2 linked regions of the Homo sapiens genome follow. The protein of the gene in region 1 interacts with the protein of each later gene in a biochemical or structural test. Each region holds a gene or a part of one and is shown in the gene's direction. Other genes may lie near its edges. The genes, in order: KLK4 and SPINK2.

Region 1 (2,844 bases):
TGTGTGTCTGCCCTCTTCAAGGAGGTCCTCTGCCCAGTCGCGGGGGCTGACCCAGAGCTCTGCGTCCCAGGCAGAATGCCTACCGTGCTGCAGTGCGTGAACGTGTCGGTGGTGTCTGAGGAGGTCTGCAGTAAGCTCTATGACCCGCTGTACCACCCCAGCATGTTCTGCGCCGGCGGAGGGCAAGACCAGAAGGACTCCTGCAACGTGAGAGAGGGGAAAGGGGAGGGCAGGCGACTCAGGGAAGGGTGGAGAAGGGGGAGACAGAGACACACAGGGCCGCATGGCGAGATGCAGAGATGGAGAGACACACAGGGAGACAGTGACAACTAGAGAGAGAAACTGAGAGAAACAGAGAAATAAACACAGGAATAAAGAGAAGCAAAGGAAGAGAGAAACAGAAACAGACATGGGGAGGCAGAAACACACACACATAGAAATGCAGTTGACCTTCCAACAGCATGGGGCCTGAGGGCGGTGACCTCCACCCAACAGAAAATCCTCTTATAACTTTTGACTCCCCAAAAACCTGACTAGAAATAGCCTACTGTTGACGGGGAGCCTTACCAATAACATAAATAGTCGATTTATGCATACGTTTTATGCATTCATGATATACCTTTGTTGGAATTTTTTGATATTTCTAAGCTACACAGTTCGTCTGTGAATTTTTTTAAATTGTTGCAACTCTCCTAAAATTTTTCTAATGTGTTTATTGAAAAAATCCAAGTATAAGTGGACTTGTGCAGTTCAAACCAGGGTTGTTCAAGGGTCAACTGTGTACCCAGAGGGAAACAGTGACACAGATTCATAGAGGTGAAACACGAAGAGAAACAGGAAAAATCAAGACTCTACAAAGAGGCTGGGCAGGGTGGCTCATGCCTGTAATCCCAGCACTTTGGGAGGCGAGGCAGGCAGATCACTTGAGGTAAGGAGTTCAAGACCAGCCTGGCCAAAATGGTGAAATCCTGTCTGTACTAAAAATACAAAAGTTAGCTGGATATGGTGGCAGGCGCCTGTAATCCCAGCTACTTGGGAGGCTGAGGCAGAAGAATTGCTTGAATATGGGAGGCAGAGGTTGAAGTGAGTTGAGATCACACCACTATACTCCAGCTGGGGCAACAGAGTAAGACTCTGTCTCAAAAAAAAAAAAAAAAAAAAGACTTTACAAAGAGATGCAGAGACACTGAGACAGATAAACAAGCCACAAAGGAGACAAAGGAGAGACAGACAAACAGAAACAGACAGACCACAAGCCCAAGAGAAGCAGCCAGCATTCAGGACATAGGACATCGGGAAGCAGGATTAGATGAAGTCAGGGATCTGGAATGGGACTTCCAACAGATATGTTGCTGGGCTATGTTGTTATTGATGATGGTTCTGTCTTTGTTTCTCAGTCTCATTTAGTTCCTTTCTGAGCCCACATCCATTTCCACCTCTCTGTGTTTTGAATTCTGACTCTCCCTCTCTTCACAACAGGGTGACTCTGGGGGGCCCCTGATCTGCAACGGGTACTTGCAGGGCCTTGTGTCTTTCGGAAAAGCCCCGTGTGGCCAAGTTGGCGTGCCAGGTGTCTACACCAACCTCTGCAAATTCACTGAGTGGATAGAGAAAACCGTCCAGGCCAGTTAACTCTGGGGACTGGGAACCCATGAAATTGACCCCCAAATACATCCTGCGGAAGGAATTCAGGAATATCTGTTCCCAGCCCCTCCTCCCTCAGGCCCAGGAGTCCAGGCCCCCAGCCCCTCCTCCCTCAAACCAAGGGTACAGATCCCCAGCCCCTCCTCCCTCAGACCCAGGAGTCCAGACCCCCCAGCCCCTCCTCCCTCAGACCCAGGAGTCCAGCCCCTCCTCCCTCAGACCCAGGAGTCCAGACCCCCCAGCCCCTCCTCCCTCAGACCCAGGAGTCCAGCCCCTCCTCCCTCAGACCCAGGAGTCCAGACCCCCCAGCCCCTCCTCCCTCAGACCCAGGGGTCCAGGCCCCCAACCCCTCCTCCCTCAGACTCAGAGGTCCAGGCCCCCAACCCCTCCTTCCCCAGACCCAGAGGTCCAGGTCCCAGCCCCTCCTCCCTCAGACCCAGCGGTCCAATGCCACCTAGACTCTCCCTGTACACAGTGCCCCCTTGTGGCACGTTGACCCAACCTTACCAGTTGGTTTTTCATTTTTTGTCCCTTTCCCCTAGATCCAGAAATAAAGTCTAAGAGAAGCGCAGGTTCTGTTTGTAGTGTCCTCCTTGCTTCCCCTTCCATTCAAGAGATTCCAGCAAATGGCTTTCCCTCCATGGGTCGCATTTCCCTATCTGGGAAATGCGAGCTTTGACCAGGAGGGCCACAGAGTTTCAGAGGGAGGGGCCATTCCCTGGATAGTTAAGAGAAACCAGTGCCATGGATGTTGTCCAGTTTCTGAAAAGTCAGGTCAGCAAATGGTAACCGTAGAGATTTTCTTGCTTAGTTTAACTATTCAGCTTTAGTTGATCTATATTCATTTTTGTCTTCTTAACTGCATTTCAAGAATTTTTAATTTGCATGTGTCTCAGAAGTTGGCTGCTGCAGCTAGAGTCTAGTGGGGAGAATTGTGGCGAGGGCTACTGTGAGTGACAGCAACAGAGACCAAGGAGTAGAAAGAGGGAAGTTTGAGGGGCACAATGGGGCAACTGAGGGGCAAGGAGATGGGAGACTGAATAAGTATATAGATAATTTGAACAGTATGATTAACATACTCTATTTAATGGTCATATATGGAATGTTGCACCCAGTATCTGAAAAATATAGAATCATTTCAAAAGACATACAGCTACCAGAATGGCTAAAATTGAAAAGAATAACAGCATCAAGTCTTGG
Region 2 (7,506 bases), on another chromosome or scaffold:
TGCTAAAACATAACAAGAGTCACCTTTACTCTAGTTCCCAACAAGTTCCTCATCTCCATCTTAGACCACCTCAGCCTGGACCTTATTCTCCTTATCACTATCAGCATTTTGGGCAAAGCCATTCAGCAAGTCTCTAGGAAGTTCCAAACTTTCCCACATTTTCCTGTCTTCTTCTGAGCCCTCCAAACTGTTCCAACTTCTGCCTGTTACCCAGTTCCAAATTCACTTCCACATTTTTGGTATCTTTTCAGCAACGCCCCACTCTCCTGGTACCAATTTACTGTATTAGTCCATTTTCATGCTGCTGATAAAGACATACATGAGACTGGGAAGAAAAAAGGGTTTAATTGGACTTACAGTTCCACATGGCTGGGGAGGCCTCACAATCATGGTGGGAGGTGAAAGGCCCTTCTTACATGGCAGGAGCAAGAGAAAAAATGAGGAGGAAGCAAAAATGGAAACTCCTGATAAACCCATCAGATCTCCTGGACTTATTCACTATCATGAGAATGGCATGGGAAAGACTGGCCCCCATGATTCAATTATCCCCCTGGGTCCCTCCCGCAACACTTGGGAAATCCGGGAGATAGAATTCAAGTTGAGATTTAAGTGGGGACACAGCCAAACCATATCACCTACCTCTACAAAAAATACAAGAATATTAGCTGGGTGTGGTGGCGGATGCTTGTATTCCTAGCTACTTGTGGGGCTGAGGTGGGAGGATCGCTTGAGCCCAGGAGGTTGAGGCTGCAGTGAGCTGAGATTGCGCCACTGTACTCCAGCCTGGGTGACACAGCAAGATCTTCTCTCAAAAAAAAAAAAAAAAAGAATACAGTTATGCCCATTCATTGAGTTATAGTCTATGTCTCCTTTTGCACTGCAATGGCAGAGTTTAGTTGTGACAAGAAGTCAATGGTATTTACTATCTGGCCCTTTACAGAAAATGTTTTTTGACCCTTGTTCTTGGCTCACAAATGCTGAGACAACATGTGAAAAGCACCATGATAGAAAATATTTCTAAGGTATAATTATCAACATTTTTTTTTTTTTTTTGAGACGGAGTCTCGCTCTGTCACCCAGGCTGAAATGCAGTGGTGTGATCATGGCTCACTGCAGCCTCCACCTCCCAGGCTCAGGTGATCCTCCCACCTCAGCCTCCTAAGTAGCTGGGACTACAGGTGCGCGCCACCACACCAGGCTAATTTTTGTATTTTTTTAGAGACAGGGTTTTGTCATGTTGCCCAGGTTGGTCTCCAACTCCTGGGCTCAAACAATCTGCCCGCCTCTGCCTCCCAAAGTGCTGGGATTACAGGCATGAGCCACCCTGCCAGTCAGTGTCAACTCTTTGAAACAAAATAACCTAAAGGCAGCTGTATCCACACACATAAATTTATAAAAAATCTATCTTGAGGGGTAAATGGCTTTTCTTTTGAAGCTGAAATTCCTACTCACACACCTCTGAGCATTGCCCCTGAGTCTGGGTCAGATTTGTGTTCCCAGAGCATCAAAGGTGTTTGTAAGCAAGTGCACATGTCATTTGGTAACAGACATCCAGCACAGTTGAGAAAAGCTTTATATATAAATTATATTTTATCAATCCTTGATAAGAATCTTCAGCAAAATGACCCATGACCATTTCATGACTGTTATTCAAAGAACTGAATGTGATGTGACTTAGAGAAGTACTAACACTCATTTCAAATTTACCCCTTGGCCTCAGACAGGATTCCAGCCAGAACTCAGCCATGTGTGGTGCCAAGTGGAGTTAAAAACTGCACAGTGTCTTCTTGTTCCAGCCTTTGAGGTTGCTAAGGTCAAGGGTGGGCATGGGAACATGCCAGTCATAAGATGATTCTCCATCAGCTCTACAACCCCCTTCTACACTCTGCTATGTGGTGCCAGGTCTCAGCAGACCTCATTTCTGCTTTTTCAGCTGGCTTCCAGAAGGTTATGCCCATAGGGTCTGTCAGGGGGACACCGGAAGGCAGGAGGAGGGAGAAGGGACTGGCTCCTGCCTGCTGGCTGTTTCTTTCAGCAGTGCCACAGCAATGACTCTTCATCACTCTGATAGAATCAGCTGGCTCCAGTCTCCAGCATTTTTTTTTTTTTTTTTGAGACAGAGTTTCACTCTGTTGCCCAGGCTGGAGTGCAGTGGTGTGCTTCGCTCACCACAACCTCCACCTCCTAGGTTCAAGAGATTCTCATGAACCTGGGATTACAGGAGTATGGCACCATGTCCAGCTAAGTTTTATATTTTTTAGTAGAGACAAGGTTTCACCATGTTGGCCAGGCTGGTCTCGAACTCCCGACCTCAAGTGACCCACCCACCTCAACCTCCCAAAGTGCTGGGATTACAGGTGTGAGCCACTGCACCTGGCTCCAGTCTTCAGCTTTTCCACACACTCTTAGAGCCACCTGCATATCCAAGCAACACCCCCTTCCCATGGGTCTGAGTCCCAGCTTTCCAGGACCTCTCCTCCAAATTTCTAGTTCTGAGAATCCCAACCTAATCCGTTTGTTCCCCTAGATCGAGGCATGATGCCTACTTCCTAAAGGCTTTATCTCTGTGTTACCTCGTTTTCCCTTTCTGCTTTTTTCAGTTATCCCTACTGGATTAGCCAATTCCTTATACTAAATTATCTCTGGTGAAATACCTAGTAAACCTTGTGTTTTCCAGACTGGACCCTTACTGATAAGGCAACATGTCACAGAATCATTTGACACACAGGCATAAGAAGCAGAAAAAAAAAAAAGTGGATCTGCTAATGCACTTTTTTTTTTTTTTGACAGAGTCTTACTCTGTCGCCCAGGCTGGAGTGCAGTGGCACCATCTCGGCTCACTGCAACCTCTGCCTCTTGGGTTTAAGCAATTCTCATGCCTCAGCCTCCCAGGTAGCTGGGACTACAGGTGCGCACCACCATGCACAGCTAATTTTTGTATTTTTAGTAGAGATGGGGTCTTGCCATGTTGGCCAGGCTGGTCTCAAACTCCTGGCCTCAAGTGATCTACTTGCCTCAGCCTCGCAAAGTGCTGGGATTACGGGCATGAACCACCGTGCCTGGCCAAATTTTTTTGACATGGTCTCATTTTGCCACTGAGGCTGGAGCGCAGTAGCTCAATCTCAGCTCAATGGCCACACCTGGCTAATTTTTGTACTTTTTTTAGAGACGGGGTTTTGCCCTGTTGCCCAGGCTCCTCTCAAACTCTTGAGCTCAAGTGATCCACCAGGCTCAGCCTCCCAAAGTGCTGGGATTAGAGGCGTGAGCCACCACGCCTGGCCTTAATGCACTAACTTGCTCAGCCTCTTTGGCAAAAATTATTTCTCACAGAAGTAATGAGTAGAACAGTAGTTACTAGAGGCTGGGAAGGATAGGGGGATAGGGAGAGGTTGGTTAAAGTATACAAAATTACAGCTAGGTAGAAAGGATAAGTGCTAGTGTTTCATAGCATTGTAGGGTGCCGACAATTAACAATAATATATTATAAAGGTCGAGCACGGTGGCTCAAGCCTGTAATCCCAGCACTTTGGGAGGCCAAGGTGGGCGGATTGCTTGAGCCCAGGAGTTTGAGAGTAGCCTGGGCAACATGGTGAGAACCCCTCTCTACAAAAAATGCAAAAATTAGCTTGGCATGGTGGCATATATCTGTGGTCCCAGCTACTTGGGAGGGAGGCTGAGGTGGGAGGATCACTGGAACCTGGGAGGTGGAGGTTGCAGTGAGCTGAGATCGTGCCACTGCACTCCAGCCTGGGTAAAAGAGCGAGACCCTGTCTGAAATTTAAATAATAATAATAATTTATTATGTATTTTCAAGTAGCTAGATGAGAGGATTTTGAATGTTCTCAACACAAAGTAATGATAAATGTTTGAGGTGATGAATATGCTAATTATCCTATTTTGATCACTACACATTGTATGTATCCAAATATCACTATGTACCCCCATAAATATGTACAATCATTATGTGTCAACTCAAATAGTTAAAAAATATATTAAAAGAGGGAAAGGCAGAACGCTTCCTGAGAGCAAGGACCTCCTTTGTCGAGGTCAGGGCTGTGTCTTCAGCAACGAAACACTATCTGGGACTTAGTACATGCTTAAGAAATAGGTGTTGATTGACAGAGCTCCCAAGAGCTCCACAAGGGTCCCCCTAGGACTGTCACAGGTTCTTGTATGTCGGAGGGAGAGGTCTTCCCCTTCGTCTCCTTGGGGGGAGGGGAAGGTGTTGGGGAACAACTGCCCCTTCCTCTATCTCCCTCGCCCCTCCTTCCCCATGGCCCCCTCCCCCGTCCTTCTACCTTTCTCCTTCCCAGCCCTTTCCGGTTCTCCCCCGACCCTTCACGGCTCCTCTTCCCGCCGCTCCTCTTCCCGCCGCCCCTCTTCCCTCGCCACCTACCGCTGCTTTTCCTCCCATTCTCGCCCCGCCCCTTCCCCCGCCCTCCCCGCGCCCCGTCGCACGAGCGCTCCCTGCGAGTGGCGCAGGTAACAGACCGCAGGGGCAAGACAGCCGGCGCGGGAGGAGGATGGCGCTGTCGGTGCTGCGCTTGGCGCTGCTGCTCCTGGCAGTTACCTTCGCAGGTAGCGCTCGGAGCGGTCCTGGCGAGCGGGGACCTCCGGAGAAAAGCGGGTTTGGGAGTCAGACCGGCGGCGGACCCTGCCCTGCTCCGGGCGGCCTCGGCGACGGTACCCGCGCGCCCGTTACTGGCGGTTCCCCAGAGGACCTGCCAGGTGGAGGAACGCGAACTGGGGGTTGTGGGGGTGGCTTTGTGGAGTCAGCCACCCTCTTTAGTTCTTGCTTGGGCTTCGCTCCCAGCTCTAAGGACACCTGCCATCTAGAGCGCTTTCTCTGTTAAAGTAGATTTTCAGGTGCCCAAGATGAGGAGTTGAGTTTTTATGTATGGTCCCAAGGGAGGAGATGTGCAGGAATGAGGAATTGTGGATGCTTACGAGAAAGGGGCTTTAGTCCAACCACACTGGACACCTCTCTTAAAATGGAGTTAAAATGCTCACATCTTATATTAAATTTTGTATTTGTTACCCCGAGTTGTAAAGGAAAATAACATCATGAACTATTAATTAAGGGTTACTTCCTTGGCCAGGTGTAGTGGCTTGGGCCGGTAGTCCCAGTTACTCCGGAGGTTGAGGCGGGAGGCTCGCTTGAGACCAGGAATTGAAGCTGCAGTGCGCTAGCGCGACTTTTATTCCATAGCTTCAAAGTCCTTTCTCAACCAACCCTAATGGGAACAGAACCAAATGTTATTTCTATGTGCTTTTGGGGAGAGGTGCCATAAAAAACTGAATATCCTTTCTGGGGGAAGTGGGATGGGGACAGTTTAAAGAAGGTAGGCATTAGAGGGGAAAATAGAAGATGTGGCCTGGATAAATCCCAAACTGGATTTTAAAACATCCTTATGAAGCTGGATGTGGTGGCTAATGCCTCAAATTCCAGCACTTTGGGAGGCCTAGGCAGGAAGATCGCTTAAGCCCGGGAGGTCAAGACCAGCCTGGGCAACATAGCAAGACTTCATTTAAAAAAAAAAAAAACTTCATGAACAATACCTTACCTTGATCCTATACTGTAAAATGTCTATGCTTTCTTCTTACAGCCTCTCTGATCCCTCAATTTGGTCTGTTTTCAAAATATAGAACGGTAAGTAGCAAACCACTTCTACTGTTTCTACTAATACAGTGAAGCCCAAAACCGTTTGGGAGGGAGGCTGGCTTTCAGGTCTGACCTGCCACTTTTGAAACCATTGAGGACTGCGTTTAAAACCAGGTTGTCAGGCAGGCCTTTTGATTCAGATAAAAGTGTAAGTTTTAGTTGAAAACAGCTCAGTCTTTGTGTTAATATTTCCTTTAAAGATTCAAAAGGTCCTTAGAAAAAGTTATGCCTTGTACTAGATATTTTATGTACTTTATCAAATTAAATTCTGAGGATGTAAATGGAGACCAACCAAATGAGAACAAGCAAAGGCTATGTTTTTCAGGGCTTGTTATAGCAAGAGAGTCAGCCACTGTCACTTGCATTTGAGTAGGGACTCGAGTCAAAGAGAGGAGTGGGAAAACTATAGTGGAAAAAAGGAATGGCTTCAGGTATGGCCTGATTGGAGGCTGTTGGCACAGGGAAGCTGTAGGTGAGCTAACTAGAAGCACAACATTCTATGGTATGGGTTAGGGGTGTGTATTTGGTTTTCTCTGGTTGTCCTAAGTTGGAATCAAGGACAGAAATTACGGAAGCTGTCAGTTAGTAATCAAATCCTAACCATTTTGCAGCTGGGCGCAGTGACTCACGCCTGTAATCCCAGTGCTTTGGGAGGCCGAGGTGGGCAGATCACGAGGTCAGGAAATCAAGACCATGCTGGCTAACATGGTGAAACCCCGTCTGTACTAAAAATACAAAAAATTAGCCAGGCATCATGGCACGTGCCTGTAATCCCACCTACTGGGAAGGCTGAGGCAGGAGAATCACTTGAACCTGGGAGGCAAAGGTTGCAGTGAGCTGAGTTCATGCCACTGCACTCCAGCCCAGACAACAGAGTGAGACTTCATCTCAAAAAAAAAAAAAAAGAAAGAAAAAAAAGTCCTAGCCATTTTGGGCTGATTGTTAAAGGGGTTATTGTTTTGCTTCCTGGACTGTCACTAGAGATAGCAGTCTGATTTCCTTCAAGTCTGGCTTATAGCCGGCTGGCCTCCTGGCCTGGTTATTCTAAATAATGGTTTGGGTTCCTGGACAGGATGCTGCAGGTTGTGGGTCAGAGTTCTGTTTTATATAAGGACTAGTCATTGTCTGTATATTTGGTCTCTCAATTCTCACAATGATGTTGTAAGATAGACATTATTTGACATATGAGGATATTGACTTCAGCAGGTTAACTTTGAGCATTCAGCTCAGAGTAGGCTTCTTCCAGGAAGCCTTCCCACGCGATTCCCTTCCTCTAGAGATGTAGATATGTATACACACACACTTTCTCTGTGCTTACCTATACTGCATCATCATCACCATCATAATAATAAATACTTAGATACCTACATGCCACACCAGTGTTCTAAATGCTTCATATATAATAACTAATTTCATCTTTCACAGTACTGTGAGGTAGGGATCATTATTTCATTATTATCCCCTTGGCCAAGGTCACATGGAAGTGGTGGAGCTATGCTTCTCATCCAGGCAGTCTGACTCCAGATCCAGTGCTTTTCTCTACCCTGTCACAACATTAGGTTGTAATTGCCTGTTTGCCTACGTCCTCCAGGAAACTGTATGCATGTTGTCAGGTATAATGTCTTATTTGCTATTTGTTGCTCAGTCTTCAGCATCTCACAGATGCCCAATAACACTTTTAGTCAGTGATTCAGTTTGCTTGGGTTTGATTTTCTTTTAGAAAATGGGAGTTATGGTACCTTCGTTTCAAGGCTGGGATTAGGGTAAAGTGAGTGAGTTCCTACATGTAGAATTTAAGAAGGCACTCACGCTCAGGAGGCAAGGCAAGTGCTGCAGGACCTGCT

Evidence for each region.
Region 2: the proteins of KLK4 (region 1) and SPINK2 are reported together in a solved structure, tested with the Homo sapiens proteins (one study listed by IntAct).

Annotation. Positions count from the first base shown.
Region 1 is NC_000019.10:50,905,722-50,908,565, reverse strand, and holds the end of KLK4 (kallikrein-4 isoform 1 preproprotein), read left to right. Parts: intron 1-70; coding exon 71-207; intron 208-1,479; coding exon 1,480-1,632; 3' UTR 1,633-2,215; downstream 2,216-2,844. UniProt on the Homo sapiens protein: Has a major role in enamel formation. Required during the maturation stage of tooth development for clearance of enamel proteins and normal structural patterning of the crystalline matrix.
Region 2 is NC_000004.12:56,818,680-56,826,185, reverse strand, and holds the start of SPINK2 (serine protease inhibitor Kazal-type 2 isoform 1 precursor), read left to right. Parts: upstream 1-4,484; 5' UTR 4,485-4,523; coding exon 4,524-4,728; exon of another isoform or gene 4,729-4,866; intron 4,867-5,606; coding exon 5,607-5,650; intron 5,651-7,506. UniProt on the Homo sapiens protein: As a strong inhibitor of acrosin, it is required for normal spermiogenesis. It probably hinders premature activation of proacrosin and other proteases, thus preventing the cascade of events leading to spermiogenesis defects.